Homo sapiens: one gene and its partners. The protein of the gene in region 1 purifies or fractionates together with the protein of each later gene. This does not show direct contact. Each region holds a gene or a part of one and is shown in the gene's direction. Other genes may lie near its edges.

Region 1 (3,500 bases):
ATGTGGTGTATGATTAGGGATTAAAGGAGAATATATACTTCTTGTCCCTCTATAGTTTAGAAAATGTGTCCTGCTTGCTCCTTTAACCCCTCTACCCATACTCGGATTGGATCAACAAAGAGATTCCCTGGTCAAATCAGAATCCAAAACTCCAGCGCAATCAGAAACTGACCTGTAGTCCTAGGTCATTGCCTTCCAAATGTTTGGGAAGTTCAGTTCATAACAGTCTCAGACAATTCTAGCATCCAAGCAAAATAACTAAGGGATGCAGGATTAGTCTAGCCAATTTTTTAAAGCCATGTAGTTAAAAGAAGCTGCTGTCTGATTAAATTTATTACTGTCCAATAATTATTCTGACAATTCTATAGAGTTCATCTATGGTAAATATTAGCTTTATCAATTAGCAGGCATGAAATATGCTTTAAACATCAAATTATACCTCATAGAGATAACATCCCTTTCTGTATCAGAGAGACAAACGGGCTGTCATATTTTTTTATCTTGGAGAGTAGCTGTACTGCTGTTTATGTTTTGCTGCCTGTGCTATACAGCTCCATAACTAAACTAAAATTAAGAAATCAACACTTGGAAAAATAATCTCATGCCACAAGCATAAAAGATTGTATTTGTTTAACATTTATCACAAAGTTCTGTATGTTAAATCAGATGTAAATTATTAAGCCATGTACTAGAGAACTGTAGATTCCCAGGTATGCACATATATCTTCAGTGACTTTAAGTGATAATATCTAATGAGAGGATGCAGTGTTGGCTATTAAGATGCTCGTAGTTCCCTGTTCAGCCACTATCCACAGTCATTGCATTTGCTATGGCAAAACCAAGATGTTCATACTTGGATCATTTGAAATTTGAAATAATCCAGATAGAAATTCTGGATAGAACTTATAGACGTCTGGGGTTTTGTTTTGTTTTTTTCCACACTGTAGTCTCCTGCCTGTATCCTTTGGTAGAATAATCAGATAACCATTGACAAGGGCTGAGTACCAAGTAACATAGTACCTTTGTACAAAATAGTTTTCCATCAATAACATTGTTATTTGTTGATTCATACCTCACCTAAATCAAGAAAATTTAAGATGGCATAAAATTAGGTATGATATAAAATATGCAAAAACAAAAATGGAAAGATGAGCTGAAGACAGGAGGAAGGATCATATATGAAATGTACCAGTGAGTCTTTCTAGTAACTAACAAAAATTATCAGGTGCATATACCTTCAAATTCAAATGATAAGGCAAACTTATTTCCCAGGAATAGCACATTTTTCCCGGTTTTGCAACTAAAGCAATTTTGTTTTCACTCATGACTTCGCAAAAACAGGACAGTGTCACCAAGAGCATCCTTAGATTTAACATGTCACTTTTTAGGGTTCCTTCTTATATCCCTCAAGGTCAGCTCAAACCATAATGCCCGCAGAAGTTCAGTACAAATAATTTGGCAGGGACCAAACAATCAATTCATGGCTGCAGTTTGATGCTATCCTGACTTCATACAATAAATACTAATACATTTGTAAGCATTAGAAAAATAAATACACTGTATATTTTTCAGGCATCAACTCTAGTGCTTCTCTCAACTGAGTTATCGGTATGTATTAAGCAGCAATAAATCTATTATATTACTTGAATAATACATGTAGTGTAGATATTGATTGCGGCTGTTAAACATAGAGTCATTTGCTTTGATAGTCATCTGACAGTCTCTTTTGAAGTTTGACAAGCTTTTACATGACCCAAGCCTAAAGAGAAAGCCATTTCTTTCCTCTATTCAGAAGTGAACTGAATGAGTGTGTGCAGGTTCAACTAAGATCTCATAAAGAAGTAATCTGGATTCTACCTTAATACAGACTAATAGATGATCAAAGCCTTGCAGTTCTATTATATCACGTAGGGTATTGTCATATTTGTTTTAATCTGGATGAGAAATATTTTAAAAATGTGTATCACTTTGAGATTTTTTAAAAATCTCAGTAATATCTAGCCCTCACAATGTAATTGACCAACCAAAGGAAACATCTTTTGACTGACAAGTGACTGTTTAGGGAACAAGAATAAGTTGACTTACTATCTGAGATTGTCAAGCATTTAGACAGTTAAATGTTAGTGTACAAGTAGGACCAGACATTTGAAAACTATGACTTTAATGTTAAATTCTTGCATCTCTCTGAAAGCAATTATATAATATGGCCAGTAATTGATTCAGGTCATTCTAATTTTGTGACAGTGTTTCTGTATTTATATACAGATACAGATTTATTTTATTTTTGAATGATTGATTGCTAGTCAAAAGAATTAGCATCCATGTGTTGCCCTACTAAAAGTAGCCTTTATGTTTCATCAAACTTGTTCCAGCTAATCCATATTTTAGAGGCACTATTTGGAGGCCGAAGCATTAATACCCAGGAAGTATATTTTAATATGGCAAAGAGAACTCAAAGCGGTTTGCTTAGTATCAAGAATATTAGCAAAGTGAATTAGGGGAAAAGAAGTTTTAATTTTGTTTTGTTTTTCTTACAGCTTTGCCGGGAAGTAAAGCTTTGGAGGAAAATCAATATCAATGAAAGTGCTAAGATCATTGATCTTTACCATGAGAAGACCATTCCAGAGAAAGTGATAGAATCTTCCCCAAATTACCCCGATTTAGGACAAAGTGAATTTATAAGGACGAATCACAAAGATGGTCTGAGAAAAGAAAATAAAAGAGAGCAGAGCTTAGTCAGTGGAGGAAATCAAATGTGTAAGGAACAAAAAGCAACAAAAAAATCAAAAGTAGGGTTTTTGGATCCTTTGGCTACAGACAACCAAAAGGAATGTGAGGCCTGGCCTGACCTGAGGACTTCTGAGGAAGACAGCAAGAGCTGTTCTGGCGCCCTCAGTACAGTAAGTAAGATGTGATTGGCCTAGAACTGTTTCTAAAGAAATATTTACATTTCAAAGTGCTAACGGGCTGTTGCTTATATGTGTAAAGGCTCTTGAAGAACTTGCGAAGGTGAGTGAAGAATTATGCAGCTTTCAAGAGGAAATTCGAAAGCGGTCTAACCATAGAAGGTAGGCTGGTACATCTGATTATTTTAGATGGGTAAATAAAAAATAATATTGTTTTTAGTTAATGACTCCAAACTGCCTCCTCCTTACATGTAAGAACTAATGAGTTATTAAAATGTACTATCTAGGGTGGGAGATAGAAACTTTAATTTTTTGTTTGCTCGTTTGTTTTTGAGATGTTATCTTGCTCTGTCTCCAAGGCTGGAAAGCAGTGGCATGATCTTGGCTCACTGCAGCCTCTGCCTCCCAGGTTCAAGCGATTCTCCTACCTCAGTCTCCCAAGTAGCTGGGACTACAGGCACACACCACCACGCCCAGCTAGTTTTTTTGTATTTTTAGTAGAGACGGGATTTCACCATGTTGGCCAGCATGGTCTCGAACTCCTGACCTCAAATAATCCCCCTGCCTCAGCCTCCCAAAGTGCTGGGATTACAG
Region 2 (3,500 bases), on another chromosome or scaffold:
TCGAACCCTCAGCCGGAGAGAGAAGAAGAAGGCCACTGACGGCGTCACCCTGACGGGCATCAACCAGACAGGCGACCAGTCTCTGCCGAGTAAGCCCAGCAGGTGAGTGGGCGCCACCTCCATCCAAAAGAGGCCGTTCCATGGTGGGGGCCCTGGGCAATCTGCATGGTCCAGGGCAGCCCCGGCCTGGACACCTGGGAGGTTCCTGGGCTCCTGAGCTCTGTGGGCCGTGGCCCAGCCTGGACACCTGGGAGGTTCCTGGGCTCCTGAGCTCTGTGGGCCGTGGCCCAGGGGCATCTCCAGGGAAGGTCGTCTTCCTGCCTGGTGCCAGAGCTGCTGACAGATCCAGAGAGGGAGGCTTGGCCCTGAGCTTCAGACCTGAGTGGGGAGGAGCTGATGACAGGGCTGGCATTCATGTCCCCAGGGATAGCACCGCCCTGCCCGGACACTGGTGGAGGTGCCACCCTGGTTCCCTCAGGCAGCTGAGGTCCTGCCGAGGTTCATGCTCACTCTGTATTGTGTGCAGGCGCCAGTCGAGGGAGGGACAGGAGAGGACTGCCAGGCATCTCCTTTCCAAATTACCTCTTCACTAGGAGCATTGGTTATTTCTGACTTAGTCATTGGCTGAAAATGAGAGATATAAGGGTGGCACTGTGGTCATTAGAACCTTCTGGAAAGTGTGTGCTAGAGGAGGTCTTCCTATAGGACCTGCCCACAGGCCTCCATGTGACACTCAGTAATAGTCATTTCATACGGGGGCTTCCTAAGAAGGCTTAGCCCAGGTTCCCTTGGCCTTCCTGCAGCCCCAGGCACTGAAGCCCCCACCCAGGCTCCCCAGCAGGTGTGGCTGTCGTCATTCCGCTGCTTTGCACGCTGTCTGGGCAGGTGGGCTCGGCAGTAAGTGCCTGTCCCAGGGATCAGGCCAGCACCTGTATGCTTGGGGGTGGGAATGGGAAAGAAGAAACACTGCCTCAGAGGAGACCCTGGGGGCCCTGGGCTGGCCAGGGTTGCTGCACAATCCAGCCGCCCCCACCAGTGCCGTCTCACAACAGTCTGCTAGAGAAAGGTGCCAAGGAGGGAGGAGGGCCGGTGAGCTCAGACATGTGGCCTGGATATTGGCCTCCAGCAGGCCTAGGTCAAGTACCACTTGCCAGGCTGAAGTGGATGAGGCAGTTACTGGCCACTCAGGATCACCCTGGTGGCATTGGAGGCATGTCCTCGCCTCCCTTCCTTGGTTCTGGGGTGGTGGGTGCTCAGGCTGAGCAGTCCATCCAGTGCTTTGGGGGCCTGTGCCCTGAGGCCCTGGTCTTGGAAGTAGAAGGTGCTGCTGGCCAGGGTAGCCCGGTCCTAGGATCAGTTACTTGGTGGGGTGCCAGGGCCCTTGGTGCCTGTCTGATTGGATTGCTTGATGGTCTGCCTGTGGTCTTCGTAGTGTGTAACTCAGCTCCCGGCTCCCAGCCCTCAGGCAGAGCTTGGCCCAGATCTCTCTGGTTCCCACACTGGGCCTGGCAAACAGTAGGCAGTTGCACGACTGGATTTTCCCTCTGGAGCACCAAAGGAATCTTCTTTCTATCTAGAAAAGACGGTGCCGCAGGCCCTGGCCCTGATTTTGGAGGCTTCAGCTCCACAGAGCAGAAGAGCGAGCCCTGAACCCCTTAGTAGTCAGGAGGAGGCCGTGTGGGCTGAAGAGCTCAGAGCCCTCTCCCACTCATCCATGGGAGCCGGCCCCTCCCACACTGTCACTCTCAGAGGAGACCCTGAGGGGCTTTTTGACCCCCCCAGCTCACATTGGTGGGAGTCAGGACAGAGGAGAAGCCCTGAACCTGGAAACGACTTTTGCTCCAGCTGTGGCTTGTCACCCGCCCCTGGGCCACCCCAGGGCCCCTGTTCTGGACGGACTGTCTCCAGGTGCAAGGAAGGAAAAGGGAAACCAAGTCCTCTCCTAGGCTCCTGGACCGTGTTTCACAGCTGAAGTATTGCCCGCATTCTGCCATAGTAACCTTTCTGTTGAAACACCACGGTCCCCTCCGGTCACAGGAGGAGCTGATTTGTCTCTTGAGATCCTGCAGCTAGGAGTTGCCAGGACCCTCACGGGCCCCTGCAGAGCTGGGATCCCCTGAAAGCTCTCTCTCTCCATAGCACCCTTAATGTCCCGAGCAACCCCGCCCAGTCTGCGCAGTCACAGTCCAGCTACAACCCCTTCGAGGATGAGGACGACACGGGCAGCACCGTCAGTGAGAAGGACGACACTAAGGCCAAAAAGTTGGTGAACAAATGCTTCCTCTGCTCCCACCGCGCTCACTCTGTCTCTCTTCCTCTCTCTCTGTCCAGGGGTCTCACCCCTCGGCACTCGGCAATGCACGGAGCTCTGCAGGAAGTGGGCACCTGGCGTGCCGCACCCTGGCCCACTACCTGCTCTCTGGCACAGGCTCTCTGGCACCCCCATTCCTCGGGGAGGGCACAGCTAACAATCTTAAGTTGCTTTTTCTCTGTCCTCTGTTAACCCTTCAAGGCCCTAGCAGCACCATGACAGGAAAACAGACAACGCGCAGTCTGTGCTGGGGACTAGAGAGTGAGGCCCCAGGTTGGCCTCTGCTGTGGGCATCTCCAGCCGCCTGCCCCTGGAAAGCCTGTTGATGGCTCAGGATGAGTGTGGATGGCATGAACTCACACTAGCACTGGCTCCACCTGTGCTCCTTCGGAAGGAGCCCTCAGCCCTGAGCCCCAAGGCTCCAGTGCCCTCCCCTTGCGGGGCGGGGGCCTCACACCCTCTGCCGCCCTGTGCTGAGGGCCCTGTGGCCTCCCCTTTCTTGCAGTGTGAGCAGCTACGAGAAGACCCAGAGCTATCCCACCGACTGGTCAGACGATGAGTCTAACAACCCCTTCTCCTCCACGGATGCCAATGGGGACTCGAATCCATTCGACGACGACGCCACCTCGGGGACGGAAGTGCGAGTCCGGGCCCTGTATGACTATGAGGGGCAGGAGCATGATGAGCTGAGCTTCAAGGCTGGTAGGTGGGCTCCCCCAGCATCCAGGGGAGGAGGGCTTCCAACCTGCAGGCTGTGGGCGGTCTTTTTTGTTTTTTAAGTCTGGAAAAGTTCTTGCTAGTTTCACTTGTGAGTCACTGCAGGCCCTTCCCCAGTGCCCTGGCTTCATTGTCAAAAGCAGCCAATTGGCTGGATGTGGTGGCTCATGCCTATAGTCCCAGAGCTTTGGGAGGCCGAGGTGGAAGGATCGCTTGAGCCCAGGAGTATGAGACCAACCTGGGCAAAATGGCAAAACCTGTCTCTACAAAAAATACAAAAAATTAGGCCAGGCATGGTGGCTCACGCCTGTAATCCCAGCACCTTTGGGAGGCCAAGGCAGGCAGATCACTTGAGGTCAGGAGTTCGAGCCCAGCCTAACCAACATGGTGAAACCCTGTCTCTACTAAAAATACAAAAATGAGCCAGGCGTGTGGCGGGGCATCTATAATCACAGTTACTCAGGAGGCTGCG
Region 3 (3,500 bases), on another chromosome or scaffold:
AAAAGTAGAATCGAGAGGGACAATGATGAGATTAGAGAGACCAGTTAGGAACTAGTCTAGGCACTGAGAAATGGTGGCTCCTCAAACTAGGGAGGAAAGTAGTGAAGTGATCCATTTCTTTCTTTTTTTTTTTTTTTTTTAAATCTTTTCCTCTCTCTGTTTTAAAAAAGTTTTCTTTTTAGAGAAGTGATCCATTTCTGAATACATTTTGGTAGTAAAATGGGTATTCTTTTTTTTTTTGAGACAGAGTCTTGCTCTGTTCCCCAGGCTGTAGTGCAGTGGTGCGATCTCGGCTCACTGCATGCTCCGCCTTCCGGGTTCACGCCATTCTTCTGCCTCAGCCTCCCCAGCAGCTGGGACTACAGGCGCACGCCGCCATGCCCGGCTAATTATTTTTGTAGAGACGGGGTTTCACCGTGTTAGCCAGGATGGTCTCGATCTTCTGACCTCGTGATCCGCCCACCTCGGCCTCCCAAAGTGCTGGGATTACAGGCGTGAGCCACCACGCCCGGCTCGTAAAATGGGTATTCTTAACAGAGCTAAGTTAAGGTGATTTAAGTGGTTTTGGCTTGAGCAACTCATATGGAGTTGTCTTAGCAAGGAAGACATAGTTATGGGAAGATTGGGAGTTTGGTTTCAAACATATCGATGTGTTAAAATGTCTTCTAGACATAAAGGGTACATGTGAGGAAGGCAGTTGAATCAGTATGTGTCCCTGTCTCTGCCCCCACAGCTCACTGACCAGGCATGGCTCCCAGCTGGGGTTCGAGTGCCCCTCCACCAAGTGCCCTATGCCGTGAAGGGCTGTTTCCGCTTCCTGCCCCCAGCCCAGGTTACTGTTGTGGGCAGCTACCTTCTGGGCACCTGCATCCGACCAGACATCAATGTGGATGTGGCACTGACCATGCCCAGGGTAAGGTCCAGGGTTTAGGGGATAGAGGCCCACCACCTGACTACCTACAAATCCTGGATCCCTCTTTCTTATCTGCCGCTTGCCAGGGGATTGAAGTCAGAATTCTAAATCAGAAGAGCAGACCATTGCAGGCATCCTGAAGGCAGCTTAGATCCCTCGGGCCAGTTGCTGTCCTTTTGGAGCTTTGCTCTCCAGATATGAGAACTGGGCCTAGTGTTGCTAACCGTGGCTCAGGCACTTCTGTCAGCAGAGGAGCCCTGGCTCTCTCACCTTGGTTTCACCTTGGCCCACAGCTCCACAAGCACTTATGTGCCTGGCCTTCTCTTCTCCCCTGGCCCCTCCAGGAAATCCTACAGGACAAGGACGGGCTGAACCAGCGCTACTTCCGCAAGCGTGCCCTCTACCTGGCCCACTTGGCTCACCACCTGGCCCAGGACCCCCTCTTTGGCAGTGTTTGCTTCTCCTACACAAATGGCTGCCACCTGAAACCCTCACTGTTGCTGCGGCCGCGTGGTGAGAGGCACACATTGGGCTGAGGGCATAGCATGGGATGGTAAATCTGGAGGAGAAGGCACAGAGGCACGGAGGCCTCAAGTATGGGGGGACAGGATGGGGAGCCCTCTGGCTCCAAGGGCTCCTGCAGAGTCTCAGCACTCACTGTCTCTGGCAGGAAAGGATGAGCGCCTGGTCACTGTACGTCTGCATCCGTGCCCTCCACCTGACTTCTTCCGCCCGTGCCGCTTGCTGCCAACCAAGAACAATGTGCGCTCTGCCTGGTACCGAGGGCAGAGTCCTGCAGGGGATGGTGAGCAGGCCCTGGTGTTGAGGTGGAGCTGGAGGGAAGAGGTGTGGGGACTTTTCCTCTCATGGCTTCCCTTTTCATCCCACAGGTAGCCCAGAGCCTCCTACCCCCCGCTATAACACATGGGTCCTGCAAGATACAGTTCTCGAGTCCCATTTGCAGCTGCTGTCAACCATTCTGAGTTCAGCCCAGGGCCTGAAGGATGGCGTGGCACTTCTGAAGGTCTGGCTGCGGCAGCGGGAGCTGGACAAGGTGAGTTGGGGGTGGCGCAGCCTCCCTACCTGAGCGCCTGTGTGATGGGCAGGCTCTGACCTCAGCCTCTCCCTGTCTCTTTCAGGGCCAGGGTGGGTTTACTGGGTTCCTTGTCTCCATGCTGGTTGTCTTCCTTGTGTCTACACGCAAGATCCATACCACCATGAGTGGCTACCAGGTCCTGAGAAGTGTCTTGCAGTTTCTGGGTGAGGCAACTAGGTGGGGAAAGGCCAGGGGCTCCACTCCTCCTGGGAATCCTCTCATCCCAGTAGCAGTCTTTTGGTGTTTTGCCATCAGACAGATGAGCAAACTGAATCGGCTGAGGGAGGGTGTCATTAGGGCTGGGTCCCCAGAAGGGGATACCTTCTAATACACTTGTGATTCACTTCAGCCACTACAGACCTGACAGTCAACGGGATCAGTTTATGTCTCAGCTCAGATCCCTCTTTGGTGAGTTGGGGAAGGGCCAGGTCTATGCCAGGAGGCCTGCAAGTAAGGTGCCAATCCTGACCTGCTTCTCTCTACACCCCCCAAGCCGGCCCTGGCTGACTTCCACCAGGCCTTCTCCGTTGTCTTCCTGGATTCCTCAGGCCATCTCAACCTCTGTGCTGATGTCACTGCCTCTACTTACCACCAGGTACCAATGGGCCCCCAATCTGTGTTCCCCTGATGTCTCAGCCCAGACTCTGTCCCTTTTGCAAGTACCAGAACCCCAGAAACTCCTCTTCAAAGAGTTAAGTTTAGGGCATGTCTCCTGGTCTAAGCCCTTGGATCAATGAAGGGCACAGGGATGGTCCCTTCTGTGGCTCCAGGTACAGCATGAGGCACGGCTGTCTATGATGTTGCTGGACAGCAGAGCTGACGACGGGTTCCACCTGCTGTTGATGACTCCCAAACCCATGATCCGGGCTTTTGACCATGTCCTGCAGTGAGTTTAGGGGTGACAGGGTATGTTGGCGGGTCCTGTCTCTTCGGGGCTACAGTGGTGGGGCAAAGGTCTTCAGACAGGTGCTCAGATCATTCAGGGAGGAGGTGGTACTAGGGGCCAGCAACCTGATTACCCCTCTTTGGCCCTTTGTACCCCTCCAGTCTCCGTCCACTGAGTCGCCTGCAGGCAGCGTGCCACCGGCTGAAGCTCTGGCCAGAGCTGCAGGACAATGGTGGGGACTATGTCTCAGCTGCTTTGGGCCCCCTGACCACCCTCCTGGAGCAGGGCCTGGGGGCTCGGCTGAACCTGCTGGCTCACTCTCGACCCCCAGTCCCAGAGGTGAGGTGGTGTAGGTTGGGGAGTTTGGGTCTGAGTTGGGCTGGATCCAGGGTCCCAAGAGACACAAAGGACACACCATTCCTCCAGCTAGGCGTTTCTAGCTAGCTAGAAAGTAGGTTTCTAGGCCAGGCTGGAGGATTGGAGGACTGAGCTCAGCCTTTTGAAATCCTGCAGTGGGACATCAGCCAAGATCCACCAAAGCACAAAGACTCTGGGACCCTGACCCTGGGACTCCTTCTCCGGCCTGAGGGACTGACCAGCGTCCT
Region 4 (3,500 bases), on another chromosome or scaffold:
TACGCCTGTAATCCCAGCACTTTGGGAGGCCGAGGTGGGTGGATCACGAGGTCAGGAAATCAAGACCATCCTGGCTAACACGGTGAAACCCTGTCTCTACTAAAAAATACAGAAAAATTAGCTGGGCGTGGTGGCAGGCGCCTGTAGTCGCAGCTACTCGGGAGGCTGAGGCAGGAGAATGGCGTGAACTCCGGAGGCGGAGCTTGCAGTGAGCCGAGATCGCGCCACTGCACTTCAGCCTGGGTGACAGAGCGAGACTCTGTCTCAAAAAAAAAAAAAAAAAATTTGAGGGACTTCTTGATCATTTGAATTCTTGTGTGCTACCTGATATCATAATCCCTCTTGCTCTCTCCTTTGGGTTTATTGTTCATTCAGGTCAGGTGACAGCCCTCAAAAGTTAGGATCCCGTCTGGTTTTCTAGGTTCATTTTTTTCTTGTGTCATTTACTGTTTCCAACTTACTCGCTTGTGAAGAATCTGAGTACTGAATCCTTCATGATTTTAGTGAACTTTCTGATTTATTTTGTCCAGCCACAGATGGTTTTATATTTGATGATAAAACATTTCCTCTTTTTCCTCAAAGTATTTATAGATTCCTGTGGCTTAAATTTTTAGTTGCGGGGCCTTTTTCTATGGAAGTAAGGTGAAGATAATGAAAGTCATTGGTATTTCTTAGATTTTTCATGCTCAAAAGTCACAAGGGACTTTGTAAACTGAATCTGATTGATGATAATTGCAACCTAAAAGAAGAGGATTTGAATTTCTGAAGTTTATGCCAGAACTGACATCTATTCTGATTCCTGTTCCAATCAGTCCTTCATTAAAAGTTGCCTGTTTCTGCCAGTATGCTCTTACTGTTAAAATTTTGACAGAATATAATGTAGTAAATTTATCCTCTGAGAAGGAAAATCCACGTTCACTTCTCTTTCAAAGGAGAATTTTTCTGTCTTTGGGTTCTGGCATTTTCTGTCTCTGGGTTCAAGTGTGTCTGGTTCTATAGGAAGCTCTTCGTGTGGTGAAGATCTTACAGAACCTTGATCCGCCATTTAGCATTGATGGGAAGATGGTAGCTGTAAACCTGGCCACTGGAAAACGAAGGTAAGGCAGAAGGGTGAGGATCTCTTGTGCTGCCCCCACTTGTGTTTTTGAGAGGAAACTCCTTTTCCTGGCTGGAAAAACAGTAAAGCATGATGTTTTCCTAACATGGACTGCTTCAGATAGGTGTTTATTACAGTTTCTTTCTGAAGCCTGACTTGTCCTGACTCTCGAATTGTTTTCTTTCTTGAATAATACTAGGTACTTTTGTCCTTTCCCTTTTGACTGTCTGGTATCTTTGGGTCCCAAATGGCCTGGCGTGGTAGCACATATCTCTATTCCAAGCTACTAAAGAGGCTGAGGCGAGATGGGGAGCGGGTTACATGAGCCCAGGAGTTCTAGGCCATAGTGTGCAATGAAGATGCCTGTGAATAACCACTGTACTCTACCCTGGGCAACACAGCAAGACCCTATCTCTTAACAAAAAAATGATGGTACAGTTTTGGATGTGCAGACACATGTCAATACATTCTTGCCCCTTGCAATCCTAGGAAAATGCTGTCCTGGCTTTTCCTTCCCCTGACCTTGTGCATATTTCCATAGCACTGGGAAATCTAATTTCTCTTTCCTCCTTCACTCATCTTGACCCAGGAGTGGTAACTTGGAAATGGCCATGTCAGAGAAACAGGCTTACCAATATGGGGCATATCTTGCTCTAGCACCCTCCACTTAATGGCTGTTTTGCTCCACCACTTGGCTTTGTAAGAGTCTTACTGCTCATTGGGCAGGCGTGGTGGCTCACGCCTGTAATCTCAGCACCTGGGGAGGCCGAGGCGGGCAGATCATGAGGTCAGGAGATTGAGATCATCCTGGCTAACACGGTAAAACCCCGTCTCTACTAAAAATACAAAAAAAAAAAAATTAGCTGGGCGTGGTGGTGGGCACCTGTAGTCCCAGCTACTTGGGAGGCTGAGGCAGGAGAATGGTGTGAACCCAGGAGGCGGAGCTTGCAGTGAGCTGAGATCACGCCACCGCACTCCAGCCTGGGCGACAGAGCAAGACTCCGTCTCAAAAAAAAAAAAAAAAAAAAAAAGAGTCTTACTGCTCATTCTTTCAGGAGTGTCTGGACCACCCAACCTGCTTGCTGTCTAGGTTGGTTCCTTTCCCTGCAAAATGAGGAACAGAGGATTTCTCGATAGGAACTGTAGGATTAAGTACTCGTCAAATGCCACTTGGTAGCAGCCTTAAGAATTGTTGTGTTATCTGTTGCAGAAATGATTCTGGGGACCATTCTGACCACATGCATTACTATCAGGTAGGCTGTAACAGGTGGGGAGTGCTCTATTAAAATCCTCAGGTGACTATAAGGGTGATCTTGAATTTTCTTTAGTGGGTGACTGTTAAGGTGAATGACCATTGGATAGTTCTGTAATTTTAACTTGCCTTTCTGTGATAGGGTAAAAAATATTTCCGAGATAGGAGGGGAGGTGGCAGAAATTCAGACTGGTCTTCAGATACAAATCGACAAGGACAACAGTGTAAGTAACCTTTGTTTTATTTCTGTTGCTCTTTTTTGCTTGACTTGCTACTCATTACTTGACATCTGTGTGATCACAGTTGGCAAGATACACTGTTGACTGAGGGTGCTCATCCAGAGAGAGGCATCTGTAGATGCACCTATTTGTGTTGGTCACCCTAATTCTTGGGTTCTTGATGAGTCTCCAGTAAGGGCTTCATTGGACAGAGACTAACATTGGCTCTGATCTTGTTACCTTTAGCATCATCTGACTGCTACATATATGATTCTGCTACTGGCTACTATTATGACCCCTTGGCAGGAACTTATTATGACCCCAATACCCAGGTGAGTTTGGGGCTTTTTTTTTTTTTTTTTTTTTTTTACCTCTGTCAATGATTCTTTTGAGAAAAGCACCCATAATTTGCTACTTGAGGATTTTATTCCCTGGATTCTCTGGATGCTCATTGCATGAAAAGTGGAAAAGTTTAGATCTATGGAAACAGAACTGTTGCCTATATGGAAAATCAGTGCCTTGTGGCAATACAGGTAAGAACAGTGTTGCTCTTGAAAAAGTGGACAGTGGGTGGTCTGAATGTGTCCTGGTCCCTGGAGTGGGTTTTTAGATTGATGTGGACTCTTCTTAGACTTGTAAGTAAAAAAGTTGTTTCTTCCCCTAAAAGGGAACTGTGCGCCTTAGACCTGGAATTGCTGGGAAACTGAAACATTCTGTAGACTTACTTGTTTCCAACTGTATCGCAGCAAGAAGTCTATGTGCCCCAGGATCCTGGATTACCTGAGGAAGAAGAGATCAAGGAAAAAAAACCCACCAGTCAAGGAAAGTCAAGTAGCAAGAAGGAAATGTCTAAAAGAGATGGCAAGGAGAAAAAAGACAGAGGAGTGACGAGGGTAAGAGGAATTGTTAATTTGCTGTCTTTTGCCACATAGTT
Region 5 (3,208 bases), on another chromosome or scaffold:
GTCCATTATCATCTTCACCAACACGTGCAAGTGAGCGGGGCCCGCCTCTCCCCTCCCACCGCCCTTCAAAGGAGGAGGTGGCCCGACGTCTTTGGTCTGGGACACACAGCCAGTCTCAGCACTCCCCAGCCTCTGCTCAGCCTGGAGGTCATGGGGGCTTCCCTCAAGGAGCCAAGGTCCCTCAATCTGAAGGTGCAGCCGGCCTTTGGGGTTCCTCAGCCCAGCCGTTGATGGAAGGGCCAGGAAACCCCTGCAAGCAGCTGTTTGAGCAGCCCATTTGCTGTGTTCTGGGGGTGTCACTGAGCTTTCCTGGGCCTTTAGTCCCATCTCAGAGGAAGTTGTGACAACTAACAGGCCTGGTGTGCGTCTGCACAGACAGAGACCCCTGGGGAGGGCAGTTCATATCTTCATTGAATTGTTTGGGAAGGTCATTGAGAAGCTGGAGGCTCTTCCAGCATGAGCCAGGATAGAAGGGCAGAAATCAAGGCGCTTTAAATGCGTTACCTCCCAGAAGAGAAAAGTTGGGACTGGGTGCAGTGACTCACACCTGTAATCCCAGCACTTTGGGAGGCCGAGGTAGGCGGATCACCTGAGGTCAGGAGTTCGAGACCAGCCTGCCCAACGTGGTGAAACTTCATCTCGACTAAAAATACAAAAATTAGCCAGGCATGGTGGCGAGCACCTGTAGTCCCAGCTACTGGGGAAGGTGAGGCGGGAGAATCACTTGAACCCGGTAGGTGGAGGTTACAGTGAGCCGAGATCACGCCACTGCACTCCATCCTGGGGGACAAAGTGAGACTGTCTCAGGGAAAAAGAGAGAAAAGTTTGGCTGCAGGGTGGCTGTCAGGCGTGGCAGGATCCAGCAGCTTATGTGATGGTCCCCATCCTTTCTCCCTGTGCCCCTCTTTCTCCTCTGTTTTCCTCTGCTGGCTCCTTCTTGGCCTTCTTGGTAACAGTGACCACCCCTAGCAAGTCAGTTTCCAGCCTTCCAGCCCTGCAGTCCCAGGGCCAACTCTTGTCAGTTCCAGCTCCAGGGAGGGATCAGCAGAGAGGACATCAGGCAGGCAAGCCGTCTGTCAACCCTCATCCTGCCTCTTTTTTTTTTTTTTTTTTTTGAGAGTCTCACGCTGTCCCCCAGGCTGGAGTGCAATGGCGCAATCTCGGCTCACTGCAACCTCTGTCTCCTGGGTTCAAACAATTCTCCTGCCTCAGCCTCCTGAGTAGCTGAGGCTACAGTCATACACCATCATGCCCGGCTAATTTTTGTGTTTTTAGTACAGATGGGGTTTTGCCATGTTGGGCAGGCTGGTCTTGAACTCCTGGCCTCAAGTGATCCACCCGCCTCAGTCTCCCAAAGTGCTGGGATTACAGGCATGAGCCACCGTGCCTGGCCTGCTGCCTCTCCTTTCTAAGCTGCATGAGGCCACTGTGCTAGGTGTCTCAGGGGCGGGTGGGGGCAGGAACACCTTCCCAGAACCTGAGAGCTGGAGGGGTTGACAGGCACATCCTTCCCGCCAGGACCTGCCAGATTCTGTGCATGATGCTGCGCAAATTCAGCTTCCCCACCGTGGCTCTGCACTCCATGATGAAGCAGGTGAGGCCACCCTGGGGCCCGCCAGCCTCACCCTGGGATACCTTCCCCGCCTCAGACATTGGCCCCGATCCTTCCTTCTGCCGGGCGCCTTCTTCCTGCCACCTGGTCTCTTCTGGTCCCAGAATATCGCAGCTCAAGAGGCCCTCCCTGACCGCATCTCTTTTAGCCGTCATTCATTTGTCCCGGTCTGACTTCTCATGGCCACCTTCCTCAATGGACGGCTGGGGACTGTCCCGGCCTCCACCCTGTCCCGAGGCCTCACACAGAAAACCCTGCCTTCATGCATTCCCAATTTTCTTCCCAACCCTGTGCAGAAAGAACGCTTTGCCGCCCTAGCCAAGTTCAAGTCCAGCATCTACCGGATCCTGATCGCAACAGACGTGGCCTCCCGGTGAGCAGCCCCCAGTCTCCTGCCAAGGGCACTCCCTCTTTTACTACAAGGCCCCACAGATGAGAAGGCTGGCCTCAGGCATGTCAGGCAGCCCTAGCATCCCTGCTGAGTGACCCTGGGTGAGTCCTTGCCTCGGTTTCCCCACATGGACAGTGGAGCTGACCAGCCACCTCTGCCTCCAGGGGCCTGGACATCCCTACGGTACAGGTGGTCATCAACCACAACACCCCCGGGCTCCCCAAGATCTACATCCACCGAGTCGGCCGGACGGCCCGTGCAGGTGAGCAGTGGAGGGGGAGGCCGAGCCTTGGGCCTCTGTCCCTCCAGCCTGCCCAGCAAATTCAGGTGGTAGGACGTGGGTAGGGTGCAGCCCACAGATGAGAGCTACTCAGGGCCATGTTTGCAAGTTGGGGAGTTGTCCTTTCTAAAGCAAAGGTGAATCCCAGCTACTCGGGAGGCTGAGGCAAGAAGATCACTTGAACCCGGGAGGTTGCGGCAAGCTGAGAATGCACTATTGCACCCCAGCCTGGGCAAAAAGAGCAAAACTCTGTCTCCAAAAAAATAAAATAAAATAGGCCAGGTGCGGTGGCTCACGCCTGTAATCTTAGCACTTTGGGAGGCCGAGGTGGGTGGATCACGAGGTCAGGAGTTCGAGACCAGCCTGGCCAACATAGTGAAACACTGTCTTACTAAAAATACAAAAAAATTAGCCAGGCGTGGTGGAGGGTGCCTGTAATCCCAGCTACTCGGGAGGCTGAGGCAGGAGAATTGCTTGAACCCGGGAAGCGGAGGTTGCAATGAGTGGAGATCGCACAATTGCACTCCAGCCTGAGCAACAGTGTAAGACTCTGTCTCAAAAAATAATAATAAACTAAAATAAGTAAATAAAATAAAATTGTAAAATAAAGCAAATGCAAGTCAGGTGCTGCCTTCACCCAAGCCAGGTGATGAACTGAGCAGTGTGGGGCTGCCCCCTGGGAGGGTGCACACACAGCTCCGGCCCCCACTACTTGCTGCTGCCTCGTCAGGGAGGGGCATGGTGTCCATGAGATGCTGTCAGTTCTGAAGCCAGGAAAGATGTGGTTGCTGGGGTCGGACTGGGCCTGGACCTTCTATCCTGACCCTGTGGTGCTGGGCAGGTCACTTCCACTCCCTAGACCTCACATGGTGGATAATGAGAATGGTGACGTCCTCGTGGGGCTGCCATGAGGGTCACGGACCTT
Region 6 (2,252 bases), on another chromosome or scaffold:
AGAATCTTCAGGTGAGTAGCAAAGGACACCAAGGAAGTAGTCTGGTCAACGCTCACTCAGAGGCAGTAGTGGAACACAGTCCCTATTTATTAAAGGATGGGCCTTTTCTAAGGGCAGCAGAGCTGCTTCTGAGACCATGAGGTGCCCCTTCCCCCTCACCTACCTTCCCTTTATGTTCTCACATCAGACATATCTTATCTCCCTTCTAGGTGACTCTGATCCCTACTCATGACACGGAGGTGACTCGTGAGTGGTACCAACAAACTCATGAGCAGCAGCAACAACTGAATGTCCTGGTCCTGGCTAGCAGCAGCACCGTGGTGATGCAGGATGAGTCCTTCCCTGCCTGCAAGATTGAGTTCTGAAAGAGCCGCCCTCCCTTCCCCAAGGATCCACTCCCCCAGCTCCTTTAGAGAATGGCTACTGCTGAGTCCTTTGGGGTTGAGGGAGATGGGAGCTAGGGGGAGGGGAGGGAGATGTCTTGTTGTGGGGACTTGGGCTGGGCTAAATGGGAGGGGTTGTCCCTCCCCATCATCCATTCCTGTGAGGTGTCTCAAACCAAAGTTAACAGGGAGAGGATGGGGGAGGGGACAAATTAGAATAGGATAGCATCTGATGCCTGAGAACCCTCTCCTAGCACTGTCAAATGCTGGTATTGAATGGGGACTGAGGATGGGTCTCAGAGAGCAACCTCCTCCCTCGTAGAGGGAGATTATATCCCCAACTCCAGGGACCTCTTTATCTCAATCTATTTATTTGGCATCCTGGGAGGGATTTCCAATAGTAATTTATGTGACCTGGGGCAGGATACCGTCAGTGAGGTGCCCAGAGCTGCACCCTTTCCTCCATTTCCCATCCCCCATCTCCTCAACCACCAGGGTCTGAGTTCTAGCAGGGTCCTGGGGGTATCCCACTGCTATACTGTTCTACTGCTTCCCTCAGTATCTGAATGTCTCAATTTAAAACTTGAAGCTCTTTAGACCAATAGACTGGTGAGAGGAGAAAGGAGCTTATCCCCCAGACCCTGCTTTATACCATTCACATCCCAGGGCTGTGTCCAGACAGCACAAAACGGCAAGGAGAGCCCAAGCCCCAATGCCAGAATTCTTCCAAACTCCCTGACTCTTTGAAGTTTTTACTCACCCCATTTCAATTATCCTGATCCCTTCTCATCCCCTGCTTGGCTTCTCTGCATGTGGTCATCTGCTGTGGCTTGGTGTTTAATGGGTTAAAAATAAGCCACTGCCTGACATCCCAACATTTGACACCCCAGCAATGTGTGACTCCCCCAACATTCCACTATGCCATCCTGCAGCTGAAATGGGAACACTGGCTGCCTCTCCAAACCCGCTCTTGGACAGAGGATCTGGGAGGTGGAAGCCAGGCCAGAGGACTTGGGGAAAATGAGATGGAGGAAGGAAAAAGGGAGAAGCTGAGCCACAGCTTAACTCCTACAGAGTGAAATGAAAACGGGCTGAAAATACCACCCCAGGAGAGGACCTCGCCCCAAGCAAGCCAGTGAGCAGCCCTGCCAGACTACTGCCAGACTGAGAAACCCAGAAGCTGGTAGTCATGTGGGCTTGCCTTCTCTGCCAAACGACTGGGAAACCAAAATGAGCCCACCTTGTGTTCTTCCTAGCTCCACCCTCCCCGTGCTGCTGTGTTCTGCTCCTCCCCACGCTTCCCTGCTATAGTTCCCAGCTGCTGTAACGGAGCCACCTCCAACTCTAACAATAAACCAAGTTCATTGCAGATAGTGTAGTGCTGCTTAGGCTTTTTCTGACTCCATACATGCTTAGTTACTGGGCCCTGGCTTCTACCTCTCTGCTTCAACCAGTATTGAATTTATCTTGGAAGACTCCAATGCTTTTGATTACTGGAAACACTTGTGCCTGAGTATGAAGAATAGGAGCCTAGGGTGGATACATACATCTGGTCTGGGGGAGGGAAGAGGGGCAGAAGGCCTCCTGGGAAGGGGATATGCATTCCGTGGGGTCAAGAGTTGAGGACCAAATAACCAGGATCAGCTACCCTGGACAGCCTCTTGGGCTAAAGGGGTAAAAAGCTGAAGGACCCTAAGAGATCCAGAGCCTAATGAGGTTGGAAACAACTCTCCTTGTGCAGTCAGGATTTCCATGGAGTAAAACGGTCGACTTTCCTCCTCCATGGAAACCCTTTATAGTCCTAAGTATGTCAGAAGTGGCCAGGTTATGAATGTGTATATTTGGGGAGGGGCATATTCTAGCCCTCCC
Region 7 (3,500 bases), on another chromosome or scaffold:
TATGAATGTACAGTGCTTTGCACTTTATAAAACACTTTCCAATCAGATACTCCATTTGAATCTCAAAGGTCCCCTGAGAATGAGGCCTGCTGCTGCTGTCACCTTTATTTTAACCCTTGCCCAAGGTCATATAGCTAATTAGGGATGTGTTCAAAATTACAACCCAGAACTTTTGCTTCTTGGTGGTGACGTGTGACTTTACCCTGCTGTTGAGCCAGTCTGGGTTAATTGGGAATGGGGCAAGAGTTAGATCGGATTTGATTTCAGAACTATGCTGAAGATGCTGGATGATGGGGATTTTGTACACGGGTAGAGTGTAACTCATAAGAACTGTGTAGCCCCCTTAGCACAGATATTTGCTGCATTAAGCAGAAAAAAGACAGGGAGATAGAAAATGGCAGGTAGCAGGTAAAACCCGGGGTTGGAGCCTGCTTACGGTGAACCAGAAACTGGCTTGGCCCTGAGCGTACAAAGATGAGGTGTACATGGTCCCTGCCTTTGAGGAGCACACAAGTGTGTGGTGTGTGTGAGGGGGAGGGAAAAAGGTGGAGTGGGGCATGTCCGTGTATTAAGTGCTTTTACAGGGTAAGTTTTGGCTGCTCTTCACTGAGAAGGCTCACCCTCAGGGAAACCACTATAGAGAGGGGGGTGTCTGAGCTGAACCTCTAGGAATGAGTAGGAGTTGTCCAGGTGGAAGAAGGACAGGTGAGAGAAGGACCTATTAGCAAGATAGTAGCAGATGCAGAAGCAGGGAGAAGCTGCTTTATTCTCCAGGCTGTGTTTTGAAAGGCCAGCCATGAAGAGGACCATGGAAAATGGAGAAAGAAGAGGGCCTTTACTTTTTAATAAGTAAGGTTTAAATTAATCTCGATAGGGGCCGTTAAGTGGTTCTGTAGAGATTCACAGGAGAATAAGGCTGGGTAGGGTCTCTAGCGTCATCTCTGTGGGAGTAGTTATTTGGATGGTAATGCAGGAGGCATAGTACCACTTTTAGTCTGAGTGAACCTGGGACTTTGACCCTGGGCCGCGATTAGAGGATCCAAGCTGAGTATGTTCATTGGTGGGTGGGACTTTTCCTGGAATCTGGCTTTGGAGGGCTGTGCTTTGCTAGAAGAAACTTAGTAGAGTGAGGAAGGGGAAGATATAATCATGTTGATGCATGCAGGAAGCTAGTATCTGGGTGAAAATCTGTTGGCTTGAGGGAACATATGAGGCGGAGAACCTGAGGGCAAGGGGAAGGGTGGAAGGATTTCAAGTGTGTTGTGGAAGTCTGCTGTAGGCTGCCTGGAGGCTTGGAGAAAAAGGCTGGTGCATTCTAAATGTTGGTCACATCAGTGAGATTGGTAGGTGGATAGGTAGCTGTAGGTAGTGTAGGGATTAATGTTTGGAAGCAGGTAAACCACAGAGTTGAGGCTGGAAAATGTTTCCTTTCCTATCATTCTTTTTTAATAGTAATATAATTTTGAAATATTTTCAAATGCTTACCACCTGTTATGTAATTATCATATTGATTCATTAAAGTAGGTTTTTTGATTACCAGTCTCATTTTGCAGATGAGAAAATGAATTTGGTGAAATAAGGTTACACAACTACCAGGAGGCATTCAAACTTCTGCCTCATTCTTATAGCCTCTTCACCACTCTTTTCTATGCCCACATGCATGAAAAGCTCAAATCGACATTGCTTGTCTGTGTTCTTCCCTGGAATTTAATTCAGCCCACATTCGTGGGGCCCTAGTGGGGTCACAATTGAGGATTCACATGGACAAACGGGCTTCTCAGTCCCACACTGGTGCTGTTCTAGCCCCTTTTTCTCTCTTAAGATGCTACCTTGGGTGTCGTCTCTCCCCAAACCTAACTGGAAAGGACTAAGCCTCTCTAGCAAATCATCTGCCTCTTTCAACAGAGCTCGCTTCCCCAGTCCCTTGTTGTGTTAAGAATGTGATTTATTCTTGTAGAGAGGCAGTTAGGGTCATAAAGTAACAGAGTGGGGAAGTGACAGTCTTGAACTCAGTCATTACCTTTGATCTCACGGCTCCGGTAACGGTGCTATATGTTCTCTGGTGCTGAACCATATAGCTTCTGCGTCCTCTAGGAAAGCTTTCTGGCTCAGGGCTCTGAGGGAACACCTACAATCCTTCCTATCACCTACCTGAGTCAGATGGGTCATCTACATTTTGGCCACTCACAGATAAAAGCATTAATAATCTGTTTATTGTGTTGTGAGAGGAGACAGACCCCAGGATGTTCAGTAGCTGTTTGGTGAATGAACAATGTTTATGGACACAAATAAGCATGCATCACCACTTCATCTTACATATTTGTGTGTCTGCCTCCTCTCCACTTTAAAATAAGCTGCTTGAGGATTGCAGTGATGTCTGCTTGTTGATGGCTGTATTCCCAATGCCCAGAAGAATGCCTGACACATGGTAGGCACTCCAGAAATACTTGCTTGATGAAGAGAGGGAGTAAAATAGTTCACTGCAGCCACAGGATAGCAATCATGGGGGAGCGGGACTGTTTTTACTGCCCCAGAACCTTGAGCCAGTTGTTGCTGGCACAGGTGGCATTGGGCAGTCCTGCCAGCAGAGTGAAGATTGAGGGACTGGGAGTGTAGAGCTGAGGGTTGTGAGATTAACTATGCCAAGGTTAATTGCAGTTGCAACTGCTCTTTCACTTTTCCCTCACACAGACAGGTGGTCTGGAACAGTCCTCTGTTTTCTTCTCTTTTGAGACAGAGTATTTTTTTGTTTGTTTGTTTGGTTTGTTTGTTTTGAGACACAGTCACACTTTGTCACACAAGCTGGAGTGCAGTGGCGCAATCTTGGCTCACTGCAACCTCCACCCCCTGGGTTCAAGTGATTCTCCTGCCTCAGCCTCCCAAGTAGCTGGGATTACAGGTGCCCGCCACCACTCCCGGCTAATTTTTGTATTTTTAATAGAGACGGAGTTTCACCATGTTGGCCAGGCGGTCTTGAACTCCTGACCTCGTGATCCACCTGCCTTGGTCTCCCAAAGTGCTGGGATTACAGGCGTGAGCCACCACGCTCAGCCTTGAGATGGAGTTTTACTCTTGTTGCCCAGGCTGTAGTGCAATGGCCCGATCTCGGCTCACTGCAACCTCCGCCTCCCAGGTTCCAGCGATTCTCCTACCTCAGCCTCCCAAGTAGCTGGGATTACAGGTGCCTGCTGGCACGCCTGGCTAATTTTTGTATTTTTGTGGAGATGGGGTTTCACCATGTTGGCCAGGCTGGTCTTGAACTCCTGACCTCAGGTGATCCGCTGGCCTTGGCCTCCCAAAGTGCTGGGATTACAGGAGTGAACCACTGTGCCCAGCCCTCTGTTTTCTTAATCCATGCCTTTTCTTATGCTGTTTTCTCTACCTGGAGTTTCCAGCCTTTCTGTCTCTGCCTGTTGTAAACCTGTGATTCTAGGATCAATATCAAAATCTACCTTGTGCCATGAAGCAATTTCCAGACTCCTTAACCCTTCCAACCCACA

Evidence for each region.
Region 2: the proteins of KIAA0408 (region 1) and PACSIN2 purify together in Homo sapiens (affinity purification with mass spectrometry; one large-scale study listed by BioGRID and IntAct). This does not show direct contact.
Region 3: the proteins of KIAA0408 (region 1) and NOL6 purify together in Homo sapiens (affinity purification with mass spectrometry; one large-scale study listed by BioGRID and IntAct). This does not show direct contact.
Region 4: the proteins of KIAA0408 (region 1) and RBM6 purify together in Homo sapiens (affinity purification with mass spectrometry; one large-scale study listed by BioGRID and IntAct). This does not show direct contact.
Region 5: the proteins of KIAA0408 (region 1) and DDX49 purify together in Homo sapiens (affinity purification with mass spectrometry; one large-scale study listed by BioGRID and IntAct). This does not show direct contact.
Region 6: the proteins of KIAA0408 (region 1) and MAP1A purify together in Homo sapiens (affinity purification with mass spectrometry; one large-scale study listed by BioGRID and IntAct). This does not show direct contact.
Region 7: the proteins of KIAA0408 (region 1) and LPP purify together in Homo sapiens (affinity purification with mass spectrometry; one large-scale study listed by BioGRID and IntAct). This does not show direct contact.

What each region holds. Positions count from the first base shown.
Region 1 is NC_000006.12:127,449,390-127,452,889, reverse strand, and holds part of KIAA0408 (uncharacterized protein KIAA0408), read left to right. Parts: intron 1-1,572; exon of another isoform or gene 1,573-1,608; intron 1,609-2,537; coding exon 2,538-2,900; intron 2,901-2,988; coding exon 2,989-3,068; intron 3,069-3,500.
Region 2 is NC_000022.11:42,875,650-42,879,149, reverse strand, and holds part of PACSIN2 (protein kinase C and casein kinase substrate in neurons protein 2), read left to right. Parts: coding exon 1-102; intron 103-2,139; coding exon 2,140-2,262; intron 2,263-2,816; coding exon 2,817-3,013; intron 3,014-3,500.
Region 3 is NC_000009.12:33,467,425-33,470,924, reverse strand, and holds part of NOL6 (nucleolar protein 6), read left to right. Parts: intron 1-733; coding exon 734-913; intron 914-1,257; coding exon 1,258-1,426; intron 1,427-1,583; coding exon 1,584-1,718; intron 1,719-1,803; coding exon 1,804-1,967; intron 1,968-2,052; coding exon 2,053-2,173; intron 2,174-2,358; coding exon 2,359-2,417; intron 2,418-2,502; coding exon 2,503-2,604; intron 2,605-2,779; coding exon 2,780-2,895; intron 2,896-2,989; exon of another isoform or gene 2,990-3,056; coding exon 3,057-3,234; intron 3,235-3,408; coding exon 3,409-3,500. UniProt on the Homo sapiens protein: Part of the small subunit (SSU) processome, first precursor of the small eukaryotic ribosomal subunit.
Region 4 is NC_000003.12:50,058,650-50,062,149, forward strand, and holds part of RBM6 (RNA-binding protein 6), read left to right. Parts: intron 1-999; coding exon 1,000-1,097; intron 1,098-2,151; coding exon of another isoform or gene 2,152-2,233; exon of another isoform or gene 2,234-2,306; coding exon 2,307-2,349; exon of another isoform or gene 2,350-2,350; intron 2,351-2,490; coding exon 2,491-2,572; intron 2,573-2,812; coding exon 2,813-2,898; intron 2,899-3,312; coding exon 3,313-3,459; intron 3,460-3,500. UniProt on the Homo sapiens protein: Specifically binds poly(G) RNA homopolymers in vitro.
Region 5 is NC_000019.10:18,922,715-18,925,922, forward strand, and holds part of DDX49 (probable ATP-dependent RNA helicase DDX49), read left to right. Parts: coding exon 1-30; intron 31-1,518; coding exon 1,519-1,594; intron 1,595-1,908; coding exon 1,909-1,985; intron 1,986-2,167; coding exon 2,168-2,265; intron 2,266-3,208. UniProt on the Homo sapiens protein: ATP-dependent RNA helicase that plays a role in various aspects of RNA metabolism including the regulation of mRNA export and the levels of pre-ribosomal RNA. Regulates the stability and synthesis of pre-ribosomal RNA and thereby regulates cell proliferation.
Region 6 is NC_000015.10:43,529,860-43,532,111, forward strand, and holds the end of MAP1A (microtubule-associated protein 1A), read left to right. Parts: coding exon 1-11; intron 12-209; coding exon 210-365; 3' UTR 366-1,752; downstream 1,753-2,252. UniProt on the Homo sapiens protein: Structural protein involved in the filamentous cross-bridging between microtubules and other skeletal elements.
Region 7 is NC_000003.12:188,157,157-188,160,656, forward strand, and holds part of LPP (lipoma-preferred partner), read left to right. Parts: intron 1-3,500. UniProt on the Homo sapiens protein: May play a structural role at sites of cell adhesion in maintaining cell shape and motility. In addition to these structural functions, it may also be implicated in signaling events and activation of gene transcription.